3 linked regions of the Homo sapiens genome follow. The protein of the gene in region 2 interacts with the protein of the main gene of each other region in a pairwise test. Each region holds a gene or a part of one and is shown on either strand. Other genes may lie near its edges. The genes, in order: TMEM171, MIER1 and EZR.

The links.
Region 1: the proteins of MIER1 (region 2) and TMEM171 interact in binary tests that used the Homo sapiens proteins (3 or more experiments, as listed by UniProt).
Region 3: the proteins of MIER1 (region 2) and EZR interact in binary tests that used the Homo sapiens proteins (3 or more experiments, as listed by UniProt).

Annotation. Positions count from the first base shown.
Region 1 is NC_000005.10:73,116,185-73,123,867, reverse strand, and holds the start of TMEM171 (transmembrane protein 171), read right to left. Parts: upstream 3,294-7,683; 5' UTR 3,172-3,293; intron 563-3,171; 5' UTR 495-562; coding exon 1-494. Other genes in the region: uncharacterized protein LOC124901001, read left to right, coding at 3,439-4,140.
Region 2 is NC_000001.11:66,927,839-66,935,670, forward strand, and holds part of MIER1 (mesoderm induction early response protein 1), read left to right. Parts: intron 1-1,048; exon of another isoform or gene 1,049-1,051; coding exon of another isoform or gene 1,052-1,125; intron 1,126-2,417; exon of another isoform or gene 2,418-2,553; coding exon of another isoform or gene 2,554-2,562; intron 2,563-7,832. UniProt on the Homo sapiens protein: Transcriptional repressor regulating the expression of a number of genes including SP1 target genes. Probably functions through recruitment of HDAC1 a histone deacetylase involved in chromatin silencing.
Region 3 is NC_000006.12:158,780,794-158,788,625, forward strand, and holds part of EZR (ezrin), read right to left. Parts: intron 6,411-7,832; coding exon 6,315-6,410; intron 4,791-6,314; coding exon 4,516-4,790; intron 3,935-4,515; coding exon 3,851-3,934; intron 2,874-3,850; coding exon 2,727-2,873; intron 1-2,726. UniProt on the Homo sapiens protein: Probably involved in connections of major cytoskeletal structures to the plasma membrane. In epithelial cells, required for the formation of microvilli and membrane ruffles on the apical pole. Along with PLEKHG6, required for normal macropinocytosis.

The sequences.
Region 1 (7,683 bases), on a different chromosome or scaffold from region 2:
ATCTGCAGAGAAAGGAACCCACACATCCGGGGCTCTGAGTCGCCAGTGTCTGTCTCGTTTAGCGGTTCCTGCGCCCAGTTGGAGCCACATCCAGGGACCCAAATGCCCAGGACGCTGATGAGCATGCCGCTTGTCAAGAACAGAAACCCAAAGATAAGGCACTGGGCAAACTGGCGGCTCTCTCCACAGATGAAGGCTCGGTCGGGGTCCATCTGCTGACCTCTCTGCAGCCCTGCACGGAGCTGAAGTTGCGCCCGGGAGCGGGCCAGGATCACAGCCCCAAGCCCAACCACGGCACATGCAGGCCCCGCCACCTTGAGCACCATGGGGCAGTCTGGGAGGGGCTTATATTGGCATGCCTGGAACCCAAAGATGGAGAGCAGGACTCCCACACACAACAAGACGGCGCCGAAGACAAAGAAGCAGAAGATGAGTTTGCTGACGTGTCTGTCCTGCTGGTCCCCATCTGGCTCAGCAGCAGCTGCAGGAGACATGTCCAGGAGAGGCCCCTTCCCGGAGGCAGGGTGGGATGTGTTTTCTTCCCTCCAAGATTTCAGCAGCTCTGCAAACACAACCAAACACCAAATTAACGTGGGCACAGGTGTTCCAGAACCACCCTGGTTTTTTGCTGATCATTTCTGAAATCACACCACAATGAGGCCTTGGGGGTAGAACTTTATACAACTGATAAGCTGTAGAACAATGAGTTGGTTTATGAGTCAGATAAACTAGCATTCAGAAACTCCTAAATATGTAATTTTACAAGATATTCAAAACAGGAAATTAAATTACTACACATCTAAGGGTATCTTTTTTAAAAACTGAAAGAACAAAAGTAGCTGGGTGTGGCATTTCCTTTTCTGAGTCTTACAAACTCATTTCCCTGGGGAAAAAAGCACTGGTGAATGAGGGAAGAACCACAGGGATTCTTTCTGATTGCAAATGCCCCACTTTTCATCATAGCTGCTCTCAGCATTTTCAAGTCAGTTCAGTAACTAACTTTCCATTTCCTGTTTTAGACTACAGCAGCTTTCCATTTCATGTTTTATTCTAAGGCTACATCTACAAAAGACCCAATTTCAGCAATTTCAATAGAATAAGAAGTCTGTTCAGGAACACAGTGGGTTTGGTGGACTTTTAAGTTGATTCTATCAAAATGTGGTTCTTGAGGCCAGGCGTGGTGGCTTGCGCCTGTAATCCCAGCACTTTGGGAGGCAGAGGCAGGCAGATTGCTTGAGCTCAGGAGTTCGAGACCAGCCTGGGTGACATAGCAAAACCCCATCTCTGCTAAAAATACAAACTTTAGCCAGGCATGGTGCCTGTGGTCCCAGCTACTTGGTAGGCTGAGGTGGGAGGATTGCTTGAGCCCAGGAGCTGGAGGTTGCAGTGAGCCAAGATCACGCCACTACTCTCCAGCCTGGGCAACAGAGTGAGACCCTGCCAAAAACAAAACAAAACAAAACAAAATGGTTCTTGGGTTCTCAACAAGCACAGACTGGTGACCCAGTTGCTTGGATCTGGGATGACCCTGGAAAGTGTTGCACAGCAGGTCAACAGGAGCTCAATTTTCAGAGTGGACAGGTACCCAAAGGCTGGTGTGGCCTCTCACTCACCCTCCTCCATGGTGTCACCTACTTCCACAAAGAGGTTGAGACTCAGTTAAAAAACAAGCAGCCAATAAAACTGCTAGTTATAAAGCACAAAATGGGTGGAAGGGGGGAACTTGGCTTTGAAAGAATAGTATAAGTGGAATCAAGTGAGAAAGCACCTTCCAGAAAATCACCCAAGCCCTGTACTTCAGGGGTATAATATATTAAATATGCCAAGTGGTTGTTAAAGAGTTGTCTAGCTTACACAGAGCTGACCTAATTATCTCGTTATCTTATTTTACTCCAATGAATGGGATATTTTACCAGGACCCCGTAAGTCAGGTCCTGCAATTGCAAAGACAATCCAAAATCGTGAAGACTATTTTCACCTGCCCAAGGAAAGAAAACTTTTAAAATATTTTGTGCCGCTCACATCCATGGTCCCATGAAGGAACTCAAGACTGAGGCCCTAAGCCCAAGATGATCTTGACAAACCAAAATCACACTGAGGGAAGGTCAGTTTAGGTAAAGAAAGCAAACAGGCAATCTTACACTGGGAAAAACTTTTCCAGGAAAAAGTATGATAGAATCAGAAGGAAGTTGGAGAAAAAAAGGAAATATAGGAGGGAAAAAAGCTTTCATTTCAAACTTGGAAAAACTTGATATACAGATGCAGTTAAGCTGAGACAAAGCATTGCACTAATTTTTTAATCTTCCCATTTTTTATTAAGTCAGTAACATCCTGCAGTGAATAAGAATTTCATATTGAGTATACAGTAGTCCTCATTTATCCTACAGGGAGTACATTCCAAAACTCTCAGTGGAATGAAACGATGGAGAGTCCTGAAACCTATATATATTGGTTTTTTGTTATTGTTGTTGTTTTAATTTTTTTCCTGAATCATGCAATCTCTTTTGCGGTTTCGGAGACAAGAAAGAGAAGGGTGATTCTCGGCTGCAAAGTCCTATCAGGAATTCATTTATTCCCAGTATAGTCAACTTTGCAGTGAGTCACAAGGCTTCAACTGTCTTAAGGCAAATTCCCAAACACCAGTAAATAGAAGCCCAAAACTGAATCTGTAGTTTCTTGTCCGTGGACTAGTGGACGGAGCACCTGGCTGAGTGTTCACCTCTGATCCATAATAGTGTGGAAATACTCTCTCTCTCTCCTTCTCCCACAGATGCACTCACAAACGGATACAAAGACACCCACATTCACTCGCAATGAAACCTTTTCCAAACACCACCCTACACTTAAACTCCCCAAAGCCAAACTCCCCTCTCCAACACTCCTATTGGTTTTCCAAAAGACATTTCCAAAATTCACAGCACCTCTCCACGTCCAAAGCTATGGTGCGTTTGGGGAACGAAACGAGAGGCAAATGCCTTCTGTGCGAAATCGGTTTGCGGCTTTTAGGGAGCCCGAGCGCAAGCAACAGCCGGAGGGGCTCGCAGGGACGCAGGTTGGGCTCGGATACCCAGCGCCTCCGCGCTGCCGCGGCTCCCCGCGCCCAGCCTGGCCGCACAGCTCAGCGCCCGACCCGCCGCCGCCGGCGCAGGCGCGCGGGCCGGGGCAGCTTACCTGAAGCTGGGTCCGGCGCCTGGCTGACCGCGCTGCTGTGGGCACTGGCTGGGCGCGGCGTCCGCCTCCGCACGCGGCCTCGGCTGCGCCGGCCGCCCTGCACCCTACCCACCGCGCGTCCTGGTGCGGAGGGCGGACCCGGCAGTATTTAGAGAAGGAGGCGGTGCTGCGCGGGCGCGGCGGCCCGGGGAGGGCAGGGCAGGGCAGTGCAGGAGCGACCGGTGGGAGCTGGCCGCCACTGGGGGCCCGGGGCGCGCCCGCGAGGGAATGGAGAGCCAGGGGCGGCTTCGGAACCCAGGGCTGGCGGGTTTGGCAGCCTCCGCGCTCGTGGCCGTGCGCGCGAGGAATCTGGGAGAAATGGGCACCTTCCACGGCTGCCTGGCCCGCACACCTGGCGGGGCCGGCGAGTTGAGATGCCCCCGCCGGCTGGCGGAACTGTGCGCCCCGCCCGCCGAGGCCCGCTCCCCCTCGAGGCCTGAGGCCCAGTTCTATAGGGGCGCGAGAGAGCGGCGGCGTGGGGGGCGCGGAGGAAGCGCCGGCCCCCGCCTCCACCGCCTCCTTCGTGGTTGCGGCCCAGGCCGAACAGGGTACCGTGCCCCGGCCGCCTTGGCCTTGGCCACCGCGAGGTCCGGGGCGACTACACCCAGCAGCCCTGTGGCCCTCCTACTGCTCTGGAGACCTGGAGTGGGGTTACAGAGGGAAGCGACTCGCTGCGAGCTCCCCATCGAATATGGAGCCACCAGGTCACGGGACGACGTGCGCTCTACAGAATGTGAGACAAGGGCCCTCCACACCCAGCCATTCAGGCCTGAGGTCCTGGCTCCGAGACTGAGGCCGAGACGCGGCAAGCCCCGCGCCGGACCAGCTCTGCCCCTCCCGCACCCACGTGTCTGCGCACAGCCCTCCTTTGCGATAGAACCCCCTTCCTGGTTCTCCACCACTAATGATCTGCCGGAATTAAACTGGTAACTTTCCCTGCCCTTGAACCGGGAGTTTCGGGATGAGTTTGCCAATCCCTGTGCTATTTGTAACCAGCCCCGTGACACGTGATACGGATCCAACTGTGCTAGTTTCCACACCAGGGGTCAGGGCACGGTGGAAGGTGAGTCAAGGGTTCTCTGCCCAAGCGCAGAGGTGCCCTGAGCCACGGGGACTTCCCAGCCCTGCCTTCTCTTCTCAGCTTCCTGTCTGCCTTGCCTGAAACCCTATCTAGAGTTAAGGCCAATGGATGAAACTTTTCAATGTGCAAGCAAGCACTTTACCTACCTGATACAACAAGAGATTCCTGGTCATGCTCACTGAAGGTAAAGTATGAAGCAGGCTTAGCTAATCATCAGAGGTGAGAAGAGACTTAAAGAACCAGTCAGAGAGGTAAAGAGGGGAGGGGGTTACCTGGGCTTTAGGGTTCACCAGGGAGGCAGAACGGACAAGTTCTTGCCATTGGAATTTGGTGGGGCACTTGCCTGGGTGGCCAAAGGTGGACTTTTTCATAGCCAGGGTGCCCGACCTCTGTAAATCCCCGCCATAACTAACAGCCCTGATTACTGTCGAAATGAACAATGCCAACACTCACGACCCCTTGCTTTGTGGTTCTTTGCTACATCTCTCCAGCAGTTCAGAAAAGGTTGGAGGCAGCAGGGGACAGGAGACTGAGAAAAACAGTCATTTGTCAGTTGAGGAAACTGAGGTCCAGGCTGACAGAGGTAAAGTAACCTCTGCAGCTGGTTGACATGCAGAGAAGGCCTGAGCCAGATGCAGATGCGCTGACCATTCAGTGTTTCTCCCGCAGCACACCTGTCACTCAGAGAACACACCATGCTGTGAACCCAGAAAACGCCCTCATGGCCTTGTGATGCCAAGCACGTTTAGATTATTATAACAATACAGGCACTGTGTCCCAAGGACATTGCAGTAATCTATGTTTGGGGTGGAGATATCCTTCCTGGTCCAAGTGTCAAGGTATACCACCTTCTGGAAGGGCACCAAAGCATGTCCAGCGAATGGGCAGATACCCAAGAGTGGATTGTACAACAGCAGGCACTGGCTTTCTAAGAACTCAGGCCCTCATTATAGGATTTGTCCCCTCTGACACAGGCCTGTGAACAACTCTTCATTGTGCAAAAGGGTTTCCTTGTCCTTTCCCTACTCATTCTTCCCTTCCCCCTTATTTGAAACTGAATCTCTGGCCATGTCATGTGCAGGCCTGCAAGGGGCCTGTTGATACAGCTGCCCCTCTGGTGCCACATGACTGCAGGCTCACCACCCATGACAGACTTGAATATCCTGGCACCAAGGACAATCAGATTAGCCTCCACTTGGTATATCTGCTGTTCTCACTGTTTGTGTCTATGAGAGCCTGTTTGACTAAATTAAACTCCTTGGAAATTGATCATCGATTATGTATGAAAGACATACCCACCAGCCTTTGAGGTACTTATCTTTGTAGCCCACCTAGCCTTAGGAGAGAAGCTGCGTGGCCTGGTCACTATCTAGTGGTCTTCCCTGGCCTGTGTGGTAGTGAAAAAGATAAAAGCCAGACCGAATCCTTAGAAAAACAGCATCAGAACAAGATTAAAAACCTCGAATTCAGTGACTGTAGAAGCATAAAGCAGAGGCATGTGTTCATGTATTTAGCCAGCACAGATTTACCAACTACCAATAAAACACGGAACTTGTATTTTATTGAGGAGAAAGGCAATAAAATATGTAAGTTATACAGAGAATTAGAAAGTGATTGAGTGCCAGGGAGAACAATAAATCACAGATGGGGACTGGGGAGCACCCCATTTTAAATAGGGGAGTTAAGGAAGGCATCTCTGAGAAGGTGAGATTGCAGCAAAAACTTGAAGGGAATGAGGAAGCAAGTGTATCAATGATCTATTATTGCATAACAACTTACCCCAAAACTTTGAAGTTTGAAACAGCAAAAATGTATTCTCAGGGTTTCTGATCAGGGTCAGAAACTGCAAGTGGCTTAGCTGGGTACTTCTGGCTGAGCCTCTCAGAGGCTGCAGTCTAGCAGTTGGCCAGGGCTGTGGTCATCTGAAGGCTGGACTGGGGCTGGAGGATCTGCTGCCAAGGTGGCACATTCACAGGGCTATTGGCAGGAGGCCTCAGTTCCTCACTATGTGGATTTCTCCACCCAGCCTCCCCTCACGTGAGTGATCCAAGGGAGAGCAAACAAAGGGGAAGCTGTGGTGCCTTTTCTGACGAGGCTCTGCACTTCCATACCATCACTTCTCTTTATTCTGGTCCTTAGAATTGAGTCACAAAGTCAAGGGGAATGGGATTAGGTGCCACCTCTTGTAGGGAAGAGTAAGAATTTGTAAGCATAGTTCGTGATTTTTTGTGGGAAGTAGGGAAGAGTGCTTCAGGCAGAAGTAACCACAGGTGCAAAGGCCCTGAGGTAGGAACACACATATTAGCATATTCAAAGGAGAGCAAGAGGCCAGGGTGGCTGCAGTTGGTGAGCAAGGGGGAGAGTAGGAGAGGAGGTCAGAGAGGAAAGGCATGTGCAGGGCCAAGGGCACCAGGTTGTGCAGGGCCTTTAAGTAGGTGGGAAGCCTTTGAATGGTTTTTGAGCTGATGTGATGAGCTTTGACAGTGATGTGATCTGATTTCTTTTAAAAAAGAAATTGGTGGCTGTTGCAGTAAGAATAGCCCAAGGAGGAGCCAGGATGGATGGGAAGAGGCCAGTTAGGAGGCTGTGGTAACAACCCAGGAGTTATGTCTGTAGCTTGTGTATGAAGGTGATGAAAGGGATGAGACTTTGGATATATCTTGAAGATAGAGTCAATGGGATTTTCCATGAACCACATGTGGGTTTTGATTCCAAGGTTTTGGATCTGAGCAAGTGGAAGAATGGTTCTGGCATGAGCAAGATGGGGAATCCTAAGAGTGGGACAAGTTTGAGAGGAGGAGCTTCAGAGTCCATTTGGGGACATGTTAATTTTGTCCATTAGACATCCGAGTAGAGAAGCTGAGTAGGCAATTGAATATGGAGGCTTGGAGTTCAGGAATTCGGAAGGAATACTTTCCTGTGGTCTGTGAGTGACATTACAAAATTGAGGAGGCTGGGCTCCCTCTCTGGAAGAGTAACAATTAGTCCTTTGGAGGGTTCTAAACACACAAAGCAAGGGAGGGGCTGGTGCCAACCAAGTGCAGTTTTCAGATGTTTCTGGGGTGCAGAGCACAGCTAGTGCGGCTGGGAGGCATGAGTTTCACCCAGAGCAGGGGGCTTCTGCTGCTCTGTTCCCAAAACAGTGCCCTAAGGAACACATATCTTTCACTTCAACAAGACAGGCCACGTATTTCTTCCCAGGGCACTGCCAACCCTGAGAAGAAACTCAGGGCAAGTGGATTGACCTGCAGAATTCAGTGGCACCATTTTTCAGAATTCATAAGATGGCAGAAAGACAATCAGCTAATCAAGTCTGCCAACTTCTAGGTCTCTTTTCTCTTTTGGTCTCTTTCTAATTCTGCCCCAAATTAATCTTAGCACCCAGAAGCACA
Region 2 (7,832 bases):
GACTAAAAGATCTCTAAGGTCCCATCCAACACTAAAATTCTATAACTAGTGAATAGTTAATTTTTATATATTTAATACTGAAGAGGGTAAGTAAGCGTTTTGAGAAAGACTTTTCATTCCGTAAGGTGGCTCCTGAAAATTTTACAGTTAGGTGTATCACTAAAATAAAATAATAGTGGAAGGATACTGAATTCAGTGGTAATGTGTTACCTATGAATTGCAGTATTAGAGCTGTTTCTTTTTTATAATATCTGAACCTAAAAAACCCACTGAATCCACATTTATAAAAAGGGGAAGGGGAAAAATGTAGAGAGTTTTTTTCCCTCAATAATAATAATACCATTTAAAACTAGTAATATTGATACACAATATTAATAAACTTAAAGAGTTATTTAACAGTAAGATAGATACCCATTCAGAAATGTTTCAGACTTCCATTTTCCTGACAAGTTTAGGATTCATTCAGTAGGTTAATAGACTATGATCCCCTGCTCTTTATCATAGTTGGGATTTCTGTTGGTAGTTTAACTGAAGAATCAAAGATTCAGTGTACTTAAGCAAGTTATTTCTGTACCTTGTATTGTAACACTTTTAATTTTCCTTTGGTAGCCAAATTTCATAAATTAGCTTTCATATGTTAATGGAAAACCCTCCTTCATCTCCATGGTATAAAGCCTGAGTTTGTACCTCTAGGCCCCTAATTGTGTCTGTACCCACCTCAGGTCCATGTATATCCATTGTTCTTTGCCTTCAGCTCTTTTCATTAAGTGTATTGATTGAAAACTATTTGGATATGAACTGACACTTTTAAAAAGTCATTTTTATTTCAAGTCCAGAGGATTGACATAATTCAACAGGGTAACTATTAGAAACTATATACCTCTGCTAAAATATTTATTCCCCCAAGGAATCCTGAAAAACACTTTTATATAAGTTTTCTAAAAAATAAAATGAAAATACTGTACAGTACAGTTAATGGTAAAAATTGTTTGTAGATTTGGGAACCTTAAAGTTTTCCTTTCTCTTCTTTCCCTTGCTTTTCTTTCAGTAGAAAATGTGCATCAGATGTTTATGTTTAATTGGTTTACAGACTGTCTGTGGACTCTTTTCCTGTCAAATTACCAGGTAATGTCCTTTCACTTAGCAGCTACTTCATATATCTGTAAATGCAGTTTATTCATGCACAGATTATTATTGGACATAACAGTTTCAAATTAACATTGAATCTTTGGAAATAGGAAAATGCTTGATAGAGTCTAGAATTTTAAGGGAATATAAATAATTTAATAGCCTCCCCTATATTGCATTATAAGTTAAGTATTAACTTTAAGAAAAATTGTATATGTACACATTTATGCAATGTAGTATTGGTTCACATTATTTGGAAGGAATGAATAATTCTCGTATTTAAATGGTTGATTTTGGTAGCCACTTTTGAAACTGCATTAAGAGGAACCCTTGAAGATTAGGAAAAAAATCCCAGTCTTTTGAAATAAAGACTTTCAAACTGGTTTAGTAAAATATGTTAGTGACTGTTTTAATGTCACCTTTGTGTTATTCAGTATGTGCCTTAGTATAATGGAAGTGAAACATGTTAGTTACTTTGAAATCATTGGTTCTGGCCATCATCAGCATTGGCATCACGGCCAATTGGCAGCTGTAGGCCAATACATTAAAATAAACTTTCAAGTTACAGGCATTTCAGGCATTGCAAATAAGTAGGTTCTCCCTCCATGCTACTAAATAGATGATATCCATAAAACAGTCAATTTTCAGTATTTTAAATTTTGTCTAGTTGTGCAAAATTCAGTACATAACTGTGTTGCTACCGGCATGACAGAAGTGTGTGAGAAAACGCAAATGACATGAGGATGGCGGACTGCCTATCATAACCCCTTCCATTAATTTTTGCTCTGACCTCTCTAGAGATTTGGGGATATAGAATTTTACATTTCCTGTCGGGAATCTACTGATGGAGAAATATTTGTCAAGGCATAACCGCTTTCAAAGCACAGTTCTTGCCGCCGTTGCATCACAGCAACATCCGTTTTTCAGCAAATGCATTTCAAAAACGACCTACATGTAAAATATTACGTATTTTTCCTCTGCTGTGTCAATGCTGGATGTGACTCCTTTGGCACTGTTCCTTGACCTCTCTGATCCGTAGACAACCCCCTCCGCCTGGAGTGGCGGATCAGCTGGAGCCAGCGAAGCGCCCCGCGCGGTTGCCCACCTCCTCCCACACCCACCTTGACTCCGCCCCCTCCGCTCTTCCCGGGGAGGGCTGGCCGCGGGGCCGCGCGCGCGCCCCTGCTCCGGCGCGTGCTCGCTGGTCTTTTCCCTCCAGTCCAGCCCAGCCGGGGCGCCGCGAGGGGGCGGAGTGGGGTGTGGTGGGCGCGCTCGGGCGGCTCCTGCGCGTTCCCGCCGAGGCAGTGGCGGCGGGAGCGGCAGAGACGGCAGCGGCCGGAGTCCCGTTGCTGAGTCTCACATCCGGGTTCTGGCCGTGACCCAGCTGCGGCCGCCGCGGAGATGTGACCCGGCAGTACGGCAAATATGGCGGAGGTAAGGGAGCGAGCTCCCCCTCCCTGTCCCGGAGCCGGGCGCCCCCGGCCCTGGGCCGGGGAGGAGTGGAGTGGGCCTGGCCAGGAGAGGCCCGGCCCTGCTGGCGCCGCTGCCCACCTGTTGTCCGGAACAGGCCATTCTCTGGGCGGGAGCTTCGCCTGGAACTTAGTTGGGATGGGTCCGGGGGTAGGAGGAAGCGGAGGCGTACTTGGACTTCGGGGGCAGTTTGAAGGGTAGTGCAGCGTAGTAGTGCGGTGCGAGGGGGAGGGGGCGCCCGCCGGGGAAGGGGTGCCTGTGGCGCAACTTCGCCGGCCGGTGCTAGGGGCCAGGAGAGAAGCTGCTGCTTCCTCTTGCGAAGTTTTTTCCCTTCCTAACCGAGATGCTGTTGCGCCCTTCCGCGTCACCCCCATCCATTTGCGACTGACATCCAGTCTGTGTTAGTGGGGAAAACGTAAGGCTGACGGCCTTTGATTAACTCTGTAATTTTCATGATCGTGGTAAAATGAGAGTGGATAAATTAATCTGGCCAGCCGCAATCCAGCCCTCCAGGTTGGGGGGAGTCTGCCCATTTATCCAGACAGTTCCATCTCCCGCTCCCCAAGGTACAACCTCTGAGCTGCTTTTCCACCTCCCCCCACCACCTTCACTTTCCAGGCTTCCCCCCACCCCCTTTCCAAATCAAGGCTACCTATTCTTGTCTTCTTTCTCTTCTAATTTTTCTTTCATTGGAGAAGCTTTTTCTTGTTTCTTTTTGCTCGTTTTATAGTAAACAAGTTCCTAAAGCCCCTTTTTTTGATTTTACATATTTGGGCCGCAGTTGGCGGGCATACAACTGCTGTTGATTTATTAATCGGAACTAAGTATACGCTACTGGAACTTTAAATAACTGGAAGTTTAAAAAATGTTTAAAATATCTGAAGTTTTGTGGGATTTGTTTTGTTTCCGTTTTTCCTTACCCGTGGAAGAATTTCAGTATTCTTTATTCCTGAGAGTTCGAGATGATGTATTTGGATTTTTTTTATGACTCCTTTGAAATAAGCCACTGTAAATTTTGATTGATAAGGCATTTCTCTTGTTTGAATTGCCATTTTCATGGTTTCACAGGCACCCCAAAACAGATTTAGGAAGGAGGGTGAGATTTTGCTGTAGCAGACAGGACTGTTTGCTGCGAGTATTCTTTTTAAAACATTCAATATCTCTAATTTACAACTAAATTTAGATCTTAGATTTATTTTCATTTCTTTTGCTCTTGGTGGTTAAAGAATTGTATTTCCAGGCACATGAATTGGAGAACGTAGTACTTTCTGTTTCCCCAAAATGTGACTGCGTTTGTTCCAGTAGACTGAGAATCGGTACCTGGATTTTAGTCCTGGTGAGGTTCTTATTCTTAAGTGTTTGTTTCCTTCATGTTTAAGGAGTTGTGTGTAGCTGGATTTATACATTTTGTCAGTTAGTGTCTTCAGTGGACCCCTTTCAGTGAATATCGGGTAAGCAGCAATGTGCTACATAGGTAATGTGGTTTCTTCTTTCATGGTGTTGCTCAGGATGGTTTGAGCTTTGAGGTGTGTAGTCATATACTAAGGCAAGATATTACTGAAGGAAAATAGCTTATACAGAGAAATTTAAGTTAAAAAACTTAAATTTAAAATTTCTGTGTTTTTAAAAAATAAATTTTATTGCCGAGGGAACTAAAAAATCTAATATGTAAAAGAAATTATGTTAACTTTTTTGTTTTAAAAATTAAAGATGGTTGCGTTATTGTAAGATAAAGGAAAAAAATATTTTGATTCACTAATCATTTCCTAATATTTTCTAATGTATGTTTTAGTTTTCTTAAATATTTTATCAGTTGGAGAATGGAATGTTTTGTGGGAACGCATGGATTGTTCAACTGCAAGAAGGAAAGAACTGGAATTTTGTTTTTATTTGGTTTTTAGTGTTTATTTAATGACCTGGTATCTTTAAACAATTTATCTTCTATATTCTTCAGTTACTTGTAGATAGTTTCATGTATAGTGAATTGGGGAAGAGTTAGAGGAACTTTCGTGATCTGTGTCCTACAAAAAAATCTAAGACAGGTGAAGAAGTGAAAAGTACAATTGATTTATAGTTTTCCTGGCCTCAATACTTGAATAATTATGACGATTTTTGAGACCAGTGGTTTTAAACAATTAGACAAAGGAGAAATGCTTGGTTGGCTTTTACTTTGAGCTCTCAGTAGATTCATTCTTTATGAAGCCAATATAAAAGCATGTGATTAAATAATCCAGATGCTGAATTATTGTGCTTTTGATCAAATAAATCTGAGGATTTAAGGATAGCTTGTGAAGTAACAGTAAGTGCAAAGCAACAGTATATATCTATTTGTTAAATCTGAGGGGGAAAACAGGTTATTGAAGAAGTATGTCTCCAGAGAAAAATGTAGGTATTATGCTTCTGGGCTTTTAAAAAAAAAAATTGATGCTTCCTACAAGAGCATGACCCTGACCATGTTTTTCCAGAAAAATATTTAATTCTTGAATAGAAAGTGCTTTAGATGAGAATAGGATATACTAATTTTTTATATTTGATCTGATTATCTTAGTCCATAATAGGAAGTATATATTGGTTCTTCAGTTGTGATAACATTAAAGCCGTATTTAATGTACTTAGAATAAATAGCATATGCTCCCTTGCTTAATACTTTTTGGCAATATTTCTCATTGCTTATTATCCCTTAAAATTATTTACCAACCTTCTAAAAGGACGCTCTCCTAGTCACACTTGAAGGAAATTACAGGATAGTTGCAGTTTTACTAACTGCAAAAATAAGAGGAAAATGAGAGAAAAAATGAGAGGAAGAAATAGTTAATCCTTTGGGTTTTATAAGGAATGTACTAGGGACCTTTGGGAACGAACAATTTGTCTTGTATTTTAGCGTTTGTAAACACGTAAGGGACTTTCTTCTCAAGGAAAAAAATCCATGGACAATTCAAGACCTGTCTTTTCACCTAGGCCACATTTCTGTGATATAAAGAGAAAATTAATGGATTTGCTTCTTTCTATTTAAGTATTTTAGTACTTTCAAAGAGGGTATATAATCTGTTTATTCACTTTCACACCTATCCATTTCTCTTTAAAATGGACTCCTTGCTTAGTATTTTTTGAGTGTATTTGGATTTTTTTAACGAAGGATTATGTTAAATGTTACTTATGAAAACATTAATTTCTACTCTAAGCAAAATGTGTTTCACTGCAGTGAATTTAAGCTTCAAATAATTCTCGACACTAATAATGAATTTTTTTTCATGTTTATACTTCAGAGCTATTAAGATTTTAAAAGTAGTCAAGATCACCAGTGCGTGAGAGTCCTAAAAATCTTAATTCATTGGCAGTTAAGAGTTAGGGTACTTTAATAGGTGGGAAAGGTTTGGTGGGAGAAACAAGTGAATTACTTTAAGATAATTCTGGTAAGTGAGACTAACCAGTTTTCTAAATAATTCAGAAATAAAACACTGCCATTGAAGCTTAAGCATGTCTTTATGAAAAGTAATCAGCTATCTAGAAATGCCTGCCTGGCTTGATGTTCATTCAAAATTCATTGCAGTGATTAAATTGTTCAAGTACCAGTCATTGCTTGGGGCTTGTTCTGTTTGTCTTATTCTGTGGCTTAGAACAATAACTTATTATGTAGGTATGAAATTCATGAAGTAGCACCCCAAAAAATTGTTTTTGCAAATTGAGATTTTTTTAACAGTCCTAGATTTAAAAAAATAAATTTAAACATATCCCATGCATTTAGCTGCATACTCCTTAGTAGTGTTAGGTTTCTAGAGCAATTTATAATAAAAGTAAAGTTAGGTCTTGAAGAAATCTAAATCTTTTGATCATAGAGAAAATGAAAGTGAGCAGAGAGTTTACGTAGTTTGTCCTAGGTCGTGCAATTCATCTATGGCACAGTTTAGACTGGAACCCAGCCTTCTGTATTCCTAGATTCCTAGTGCTTATTTTCTTTTTCTTTCTTTCTTTTTTTTTTTTTTTTGAGACAGGGTCTCTCTCTGTTGCCCAGGCTGGAGTGCAGTGGCGCAAATCATAGCTCACTACAACCTCAAACTCCTGGGCTCAGGTGATCAATCCTTCCCTCAGAGCCTCTCAAGTAGCTGGGACTATAGGCATGTGCCATCATGCCCGGCTTTTTTTTTTTTTTGTGGAGACAGGGTCTCGATATGTTGATCAGACTGGTCTCGAGCTTCTGGCCTTAAGTGATCCTCCTGTCTTGTGCTGGGATTATAGGCGTGTGCCACTGTTCCCAGTCCTTATTTTCTATGATATCATTTTACTTCTGAATTATTAATACTGTAGTAAATTGCTAATTTTAATTTCAGTACATTCTTAACCTTTTTATACCCCAGAATTCCTGAGAGTAATAACAAAGTTAAGTAACTTAATTTTATTGGAGGAGAGGGATGGTGAGCCAGCCCTTGGCACGGTAACCATCTTTCACCCTAAAGTAGGACCCCTCTTTCCAGGCTTCTATCCCCATCTCCATTGCTGTGAGAATCTCTGACTTAGAGTCTACATAACTAAGTAGATGACGGCAATACTTAAAAGAAATGGTGGTAGAATTGTTTTGAGGGGAAAAATTTGTTCAGACGGTAATACTCATTGCAAATAAGCTTTTGATTGCCTGGAATAAAAAAATCTAGTAATTACTTCATGTTTTTACTATGTTGTTGTTAGGGTTTTTTTGGTGAAAATAATGGTAATGTTGTAGTTAGTTATTTCTTTACTCTCTCTCAAATTATAGTCTTCTGTTGTATGGGACATTTCCCACCATGTTCTAGAAAAATATAAAAGAGAATTATTTCAGCAAATCTGAGGCATTGAATATTCGTTACAACTATTAGCAATTTTATCAACTAAATCATACAAATATGTGGGTGAGGGTCAACTTGCTATAAAAGTTGCTAGAGTTTGTTTTTAATTTGTTTTAGCCCATTCATACTCTGTGTACAGTCTTTCTGTCTCTCTAGTGTTGTTTTCCATCTCAGATAAGATAAATATGTACCCCCTAAAACACTGAATTTTTCAAAATTACAGCTTAAAAAATAGTAACAAGTACTAGGTTTTCTTAAAAATCAAAATTTAGAGGAAGAAAATGAAAATGTCTCATAATTCCACAAGATAATCAGTTCCCAGTGACTTTCATTTTAAGAAAGAATGCATAGTACATGAAAGTGGTTAGAAAATTTCAACAGTACAGAAAGGTATTAAATGAAAAAAGCCTCTTC
Region 3 (7,832 bases), on a different chromosome or scaffold from region 2:
TGAACTTCCTCTGTTCACAAGCTTACAATGCCTGTCAGGAGGGCGCTTACCTGTTTTTGCCCTCTTTATACTCCCACCTATTCCAAGCTAAGGGTTTAAAGAAAGATGACAAATAGTCCTACATGCTCCCACTTAATGCTTATGTGTACAATGAAAAGGGAACCCCAAGAGACAGATTTCCCAGCCAGACCCTATTTAATACTAAAACAGGTGTTTTAATAGAGACTTTACTTGCAGAGTATAAATCTCTTAGAGCTCAATTTCCATATTCAATAGATCAGCTTTCTCACCTGAACAATGTTTCAGGCATATCTAATTCTCCTAGTTCTACCGAGAGAGGTAACAGCGCAACAGCTGGCGAGTTCTCAGCACTCCTCAGACTTCAGGACAGTCTCCTGCTTATGCTGCTACCAAGTTGTCAATATTTGTTCAAAAGGGAAAGAATTTGGGCCTATTAAATGACTGAATATCTACATAAATGCTTTTTTCATGAAGAGAGGGGTGTGCCTTCAGGAATGGGGAGAAGAGAGGCAGAAAGTGAGCCTGCCCAACACCCCAGCATGCTCTGTGGGGAAAGAACCATCTGAGAGAGTTGCCACGTTCATCGCTCAATGGTGGGGGAGGGGGAGCAGAGCGCAAAAACAGCACTAAATAGGGCACACAGCTCACGTTTTTACTTGGAAGAAATGGACACTTACGTGGGCTGGGGCAGTTACAAGCTGACATCAGCAAGTTCCTGCCCATGGCTGTTTTCCTGCAGGTTGAAAAACCTGTTTGGACAGCCCTGGCCTGGCCACGTTACAAAATCTGGTCATTGAAGAGATTTCCAAGGCAGAGGCAGTTTCCCACATACGTTCCCACGAGGACTTTGTGCACTGCTCCTTGGCATGGCTGTCTTAATAGCCACGGCTTCAGCTCTAGGGTCTCCCGGAAAGATGGTGTCCTGGTTCCAAGTACCCACTTTCCCCACTTCTTTAAAATTTTTTTTGAGACACGGTCTCGCTCTGTCACCCAGGCTAGAGTGCAGTGGCGCAATCTTGGCTTACTACAACCTCTGCCTCCCAGGCTCAAGTGATCCTCCCACCTCAGCCACCTGACTGAGACCACAGGCGTGCACCACCATAGCCAGCTAATTTTTTAAATTTTGGTAGAGACGGGGTTTCGCCATGTTCCCCAGGCTGGGCAAGACTCCTGAGCTCAAGGGATTCGCCTGCCTCGGCCTCCCAGAGTGCTGGGATTCCAGGTGTGAGCCGCTGTGCCTGGCTTTTCCGTGCTTCTTTACCAATGCTGCATCCAGCACACTTGGAGTAGGAGCGAACCGAGAGTCCTCAATATCTCATTTCCAGGTTCTCTGAGGAGCTCCTGTGACAGCGCCTGCCTCCCTCCCTGTGCAGTATCACCACGTGGGCCCCGGAGGTGAGAGGAGGTTGGGCACAGCTGGCACAGGTCCCTGACTTGCCCAAGTGAAATAGATCTGTGCCCTGGGGTCTGGCAGGAATCCGCGTGGTTGCAAATGGAGATGGACTCATGCAGGTCATTTGTGGAAAGCAGCACCACTCCCTTTGAGAACTCCAGAGAGGGTTTTGGGGGAACCTGAGATGTGGGGATGCTGAGAACAAAAATATCTGAGAACAGATGAGATGGGTGAGCCTCAAGTGGGAAATGGGGAGAGCTGTCATTTCAAGGAACAGCATGAGGCTGGGAAGGAAACCGGTACATCCAGGAACTCTGGGCCACTCTGCTCTTTACGTGGAAAGCAGGAACCCAGGCCAAAAGGCAGGGCTTGGCAAAAAGACCCCAGGAGCATTCTTGCCCTGGCACCTTCTCTGCCAGGCCCCTGAACCTGGTGGCCATCAGATGATTTGTTTCGGGGAGCCCTGCAGAGCAATCAGGCTGACTGTGGACAATCAGGGCAGAGACGGTAGTCAGGAGGCAGTCAGGAGCCTCTCCCTTCTCTTTCCAGAGGTAGTTTCCTTCTGCCTCTTAAATTCAGGTAGCTTCTGATCAGATCAATCCAGAATCTAGGATTATGCTGATGTCGCAGACTCACCATGGGAAACTTGCCCTCATGAACTAGGATGACTTTCCCTGTTTATCCTCAGCAGAAAGAAGGCAAATGCCCTGTATGTGAAAGCGGAACTGCCTGTCCCTGTGGAGAGGCCTGGCTCTGCTGCTCTACCCAGCTTGCTTACAGGCCCTCACTCAACAAACAACGTAACTAATGCGAGGCAATTAAGATATCTCCTGCAGACTCCCAGCATTTAGCTCAAGTGTCTACACGTACAGGCTATTGTTTACAGCTTTTCAAGTCTCTCATCACACCATCAATATTCTTGGTTGGATTAGCACAAACCTCGAGCCAGGAGTCGAGCACTGGCTGGGCTGCCTGCGAAGTAGCTATGGATGGATGTGCTGGTACCTGCAGGCAGCTGGGGTGGAATCTCAGAGGCAGCGGGGAGGAGAGGCAGCCTCTGCTCTATTCTGCCTTCCTCTACCAGGACTGAGCCCACTATCGGCCCCGCCCACCATGAGAGAGGATAACCCACACCTCTGGACCACCCTTTGAGAGGGCCACAGCAGTCCAAAAGCCCTTTAAAAAGTTTCCTACTTTGGGATAGTAAGTTGCTAAATAAATACTTCAAAAATAACCCACAAATTTGCCATTTTGCCATTGTTTCCAGGCCCACCACCCTACCTACTGAAGATAACTGTGAACTTCAACTCACTTATCATCTTTCTCATAAATATTCAGTCCAAGGGCATCAACTCCAAGCCAAAGGTCTGTTCCTTTCTTGTTTTTTATCTCGAAATAGTTGATTCCATACATTTCCAGGTCCTGAGCAATCTTCAGGTATTCCAACATAGCATTATCTCTAATTGGGGAGAGTGAAACAGGCAGAGTCACTGGTAGCACTCAATATCTAGAACAGTAAAACCTTTCCAGTATTTTTAAATTAAGGCGCCTTGTGTAGGATGGGCTCAATGCTGTGTGCTGCGTGCAGGCAGGCAGGGGCCGGGCAGCCGACCGGTGAGGAGGGGACCCATACAGCCCAGAAGCTATGCCTGGGGTGGGGTCCGTGCTGCCCTGGAGCCTCACCACCAAACCCCACACTTTGAAGAAGAACTGATTCACACTGGTTTCTCTAACAGGTTTTTAAGTTTTATCACTCAGCACAATCCTCCTTTTTCTCTTGCCCACACATGTCTTCCCACAACCCTCCTCATAGGCTTTGAGTTGTTTTCCTTCCATAAAGGATGTTTGGGCCAGACAGGAAACCCTGAAGCACAAAATCTGAGGCTCAAACCTCAAACAAACTTCAGAGGCTGAAATAATGCAGACTCGCAAGACTAGGCCAGAGACAAGGCTCTAGGACGAGAACACCCAGAATCAGGTGGCTCGGCCATGTCTTACATTAACAGCCCCACGTCCAGGTTCTCTGACATCAGCATTTCTCACTTGGGATCCTTTTTCATTTATATACACTTTGTAAGACAAGTACCTTCATATAATGAGCAAACCAGCATCTCTTTGACAGAATAATGCTGATTGCAGGTGAACAATGCCCCTCTGACTAAGATGAAGTTTAGACACAACACTTTCTACAAAGGGAGGGTGTAAGCTTTTAGAACCTGAAGGCTTGAGCTAAACTGCTTCTTTCCCCAGGCAAGACACCTGGCTTTGTTTAAAAAAAACCTCTTCCCTAAGAAAACCCCACTTTTAACTCGGTTCCCTCAAGGTCTTCACAAGGCCTGACACAGAGCCCTTTAAAGCACTAACTAGAGTCACAGGAAAAGACATGCTGGAGCGCACGGAGATGGCAAGATCCCAACAGCAGGGCACAGCACTCACTTGAGCATCCCACGGTGTTCCGCATGCCACACCTGGATCCGGTCCTCCCACTGGTCCCTGGTAAGTTTGTGCTGGTCCATCACTCTGGAATGCAAAAGGAAACAGCACTGTCATCCTTAAGGAATGTGACAGGCAAGGAAGGAGGCCCACTTACCACCCACATTCAAACCCTTACTTTCCATTCAAATCAATCAATCCCAAAGAGCTTTGGTTTCTATTTCCTGATGTGCAGCATTTCTATTTATGACAGTTAATCTGGAAGACTTAGCATTTTGAACAAGAACTCAGTTCTGCTGGAAAAACTAAGAGGTATTTTAAGTGGCCTCTTCTTCCAAATGGGGTAATTTTTGTGACCATTACTAAATAAAAACAGATTTCACAGGGGCAACCTATCATACCCCAGGAGGAGCTGAGCAGTCAGGTCGAGAAGTTTGCTATGCCATGTCCCACAGGACACGGCCACGCTTTAGTTTCCATGAGGAATGGCAGCTCGCCTTCCCTGGCTATGTTTCAGGTCGCTGGTCAGTGACTTAATGACTAGCATGAAGGAGCACTTGACACTGGCGAAGTCCTTGTGTTTTTAAACTGTGCTTCTAAGGCAATCACTTCTCCCTGCCGAGGACGGCATGACTGCTCCTGCCCAGGCCGGGTCATCCTGTGCTCACCTTTGAGGGATCAGCCGCTCAGAGCTGAGGTACCCAGACTTGTGCACTTCTTTGTTGTAGTCCCCAAACTTGGCCTGCACAGCGTAGGACCCCAAGAGCACGGCAGTCTCAGGGGGGCAGTAGATCTCATCGCTAAGGATTCCTTCCTTCACTTGGAGGAAGAAAAGTTTCTGGGTGATGTCCTGGATGAGCTCCTCAGCCACATCTTCAGGGTAGAACTTGGCCCGGAACTTGAACTGGAGGGGATTCTCCTTCCTGACCTCCTGGGCAGACACCTGCACGAAACAAGCCACACTCTCCACACAAATCCGGAAGACGAAGGCCCACTGTCCCCAACACAGGCTTCTAACCAAGACTCAATGGGGCCCTCAAGCCAGTTTTCAGGAGATATTTATTCTTAAAGTCATCTTTTTAGCACTCCAGACAAAAAAAGGTTAGTCAAAAGTGCTACCACAGGCCAGACATGGTGGCTCATGCCTATAATCCCAGTGCTTTGGGAGGCCAAGGCAGGAGGATCACTTGAGCCCAGGAGTTTAAGACCAGCCTGGGCAACGTAGAAGAGATCCCATCTCTACAACATTTTTTAAAAAAAAGTTAGCTGGGGATGGTGATGCATGCTTATAGTCCCAGTTACTCAAGAAGCTGAGCAGGAGGAACCCTGGAGCTCAGGAGTTCGAGACTGCAGTGAGCTATGATGGCGCCACTGCACTCCAGCCTGGGTGACAGAGCAAGACCCTGTCTCTTCTTAAAAAACAACAACAAACAAACAAAAACAAAAAAACAGGCCAGGCATGGTGGCTCACGACTGTAATCCCAGCACTTTGGGAGGCTGAGGTGGGCGGACCACGAGGTCAGGAGTTCGAGACTAGCCTGACCAACATGGTGAAACCCCATCTCTACTAAAAATACAAAAAAATTAGCCGGGCATGATGGCATGCAGCTGTAGTCCCAGCTACTTGGGAGGCTGAGGCAGGAGAATCACTTGAACCCAGGAGGTGGAGGTTGCAGTGAGCCAAGATCGTGCCACTGCACCCCAGCCTGGGCGACAGAGCAAGACTCCATCTCAAAACAACAACAACAAAAAACAAACAAGTACTATCACACTCTTGTGCTCAGCTGGAAATCAAAGCTACTGCCTCACTAAGCCCCAGTCCTCATGGGATGATGCTATCAATCCTGGAGAACTCAAATTTGGAAATGACCCCAGTGACCTGGAATGGGGCCACATGCCAATCGGGCCCTGGACCCCGAAACTTACTGTTAAGAATTCCTCCTGCTCCTCCACTCTTCCCCACCTCCCATCATCTTTTTAACTTGTTGCTGTGACTTGGGAGGACAGTGGGGGTTTCAAAAAAAAAAAAAAGGATAATTTTCAGAGTTTGAAGAAAATGTTTATCTTACTACTTTTCTTTTTGGTTGGTTAATGGAATTATCCACTCTTTAAAGTTGGAAGATAATCTGTCACAGGTTCAAACAAAGCAATAACAGGTTCTTACAAGATGGTGGATGATTCACAGTTTATAAGATTAACAATCTCATTGAAAAAACTAAGGTCAACTAAAAGCTATGCAATTAACCATCATATGCTCCAATGAGTGAGCACTATGGAGAAATGCCAGATCTGATTTCCAATCGATATCTCCATTTACTGGAAACCTGCAACCTTTTTGTCTGTAAAAACTTTTACACAAACAAAAAGGAACAGAAAACAAAAGACAGGGTGAGTTGCTCCAGTTTCCTTATCGATGAAGCAGACCAACACCCAATCCACAGCCTGTAAATAGTTAATCCTGACTTGCCTTCTTATCCAGCTTCAGCCAGGTAGGAAATCCTTTATTATCCACATAGTGGAGGCCAAAGTACCACACTTCCCGGAGGCCGATAGTCTTTACCACCTGCGTGAGAGAGAGAGAGGCTCAACACTCATGAGAAACTCACTCAAAAGGGCAACAGCTTTTGGCTGTCGTTCATCACATGGTCTAGCAGAGTCCCCAGGAAACCAGGACATCTGCTCAGTCCAACCACTGGGCAACATCTTTTTTTGCACTCAAATAACTTGTTACTAACTGAGGCTATTATCTCAAAGCCATGAACGACTTATTTTTAATATAAATTTGAGCAGATTCAGGGTTCTACCTTCAAATCTTAGAAAATCTCACTCCTACTCCTTTGTACTCCAGGATGCTCTCCTGCATGAAACTCAGCAGGGCGGGTTATGGCCAGCACACACAGAACCATGGGAGCCCACAGCCCCCCAGGGAACAGTGCGGTGGGTGCATCGCTGCCGGTCAGGTGTGCTCATGCAGAAGACTAAAGCATCCAGTGCCACACCTGAGCCTCCTCTGGCTGCCTGCCTCTGCCTCTCAGCCAGCTGGCCCAGGGGTCTGACTTACTAGGAACAGGGACAAAGAAATCCTAGGAAAGGCAGGAAAACAGGCAAGGCAGACTTCTGGGACGGAAGGGTGTCAATGCACAGGGGTGCCCAGAGGAACCTGCATCTTATAGACCTCCAGAAATGGGACATTCTGATACAGCAAAGGTAGAATCCCGACCCTAGGTCACAGCAAAGATTTCACATTTTCAAGCCTCTGTTGTGCATTACAGGAGTCCTGAGCTGCTTAGTCTCACGACTGTCTTGTAAACAGAAAAGCAGTGATAGTCGAACTTGCTGTGGACATTTGTTGAACATCATCTAAACCGAGTCCCAGACAAGTTCGACTATTTACATATACATAGATGTCTAATTTAAAATCCCATGATATATAATGTTAAACTTTAAAAAATGCTACCATCCTTCAAATACATGGCTTCTATCATATTTAATGCCAAAGAGGGTTGAATACATTAGAAATGACAACTCAGGTATACAGAGCATTTGCTTAAAGTAAATCCTAAAATTCCAAATTAACTCCTGATCTGGGCCTGTTTCTTCATCTGAAGGGTGCAGGGAGGCCAGAGGCTCCCTAAAGCTCTAGAAGTCTGTTTATTAAATGCCCAGGACTGACCTGTTCTTCCCCCTCTTCCCACTCACCCAAAAGGGATGGGGGAAGGCTGCAAGCTGAGCGTGGTGGCTCACACTTGTAATCCCAGCACTTTGGGAGGCCAAGACGGGTGGATCACTTGAGTTCAGGAGTTCGAGACTAGCCTGGCAAACATGGCGAAACCCTGTCTCTATTAAAAATACAAAAATTAGCAGGGCGTGGTAGCATGTGCCTGTAATCCCAACTATTCGGGGAGCTGATGCAGGAGAATTGCTTGAACCTGTGAGACAGAGGTTGCAGTGAGCTGAGATTGCACCATTGCACTCCAGCCGGGGC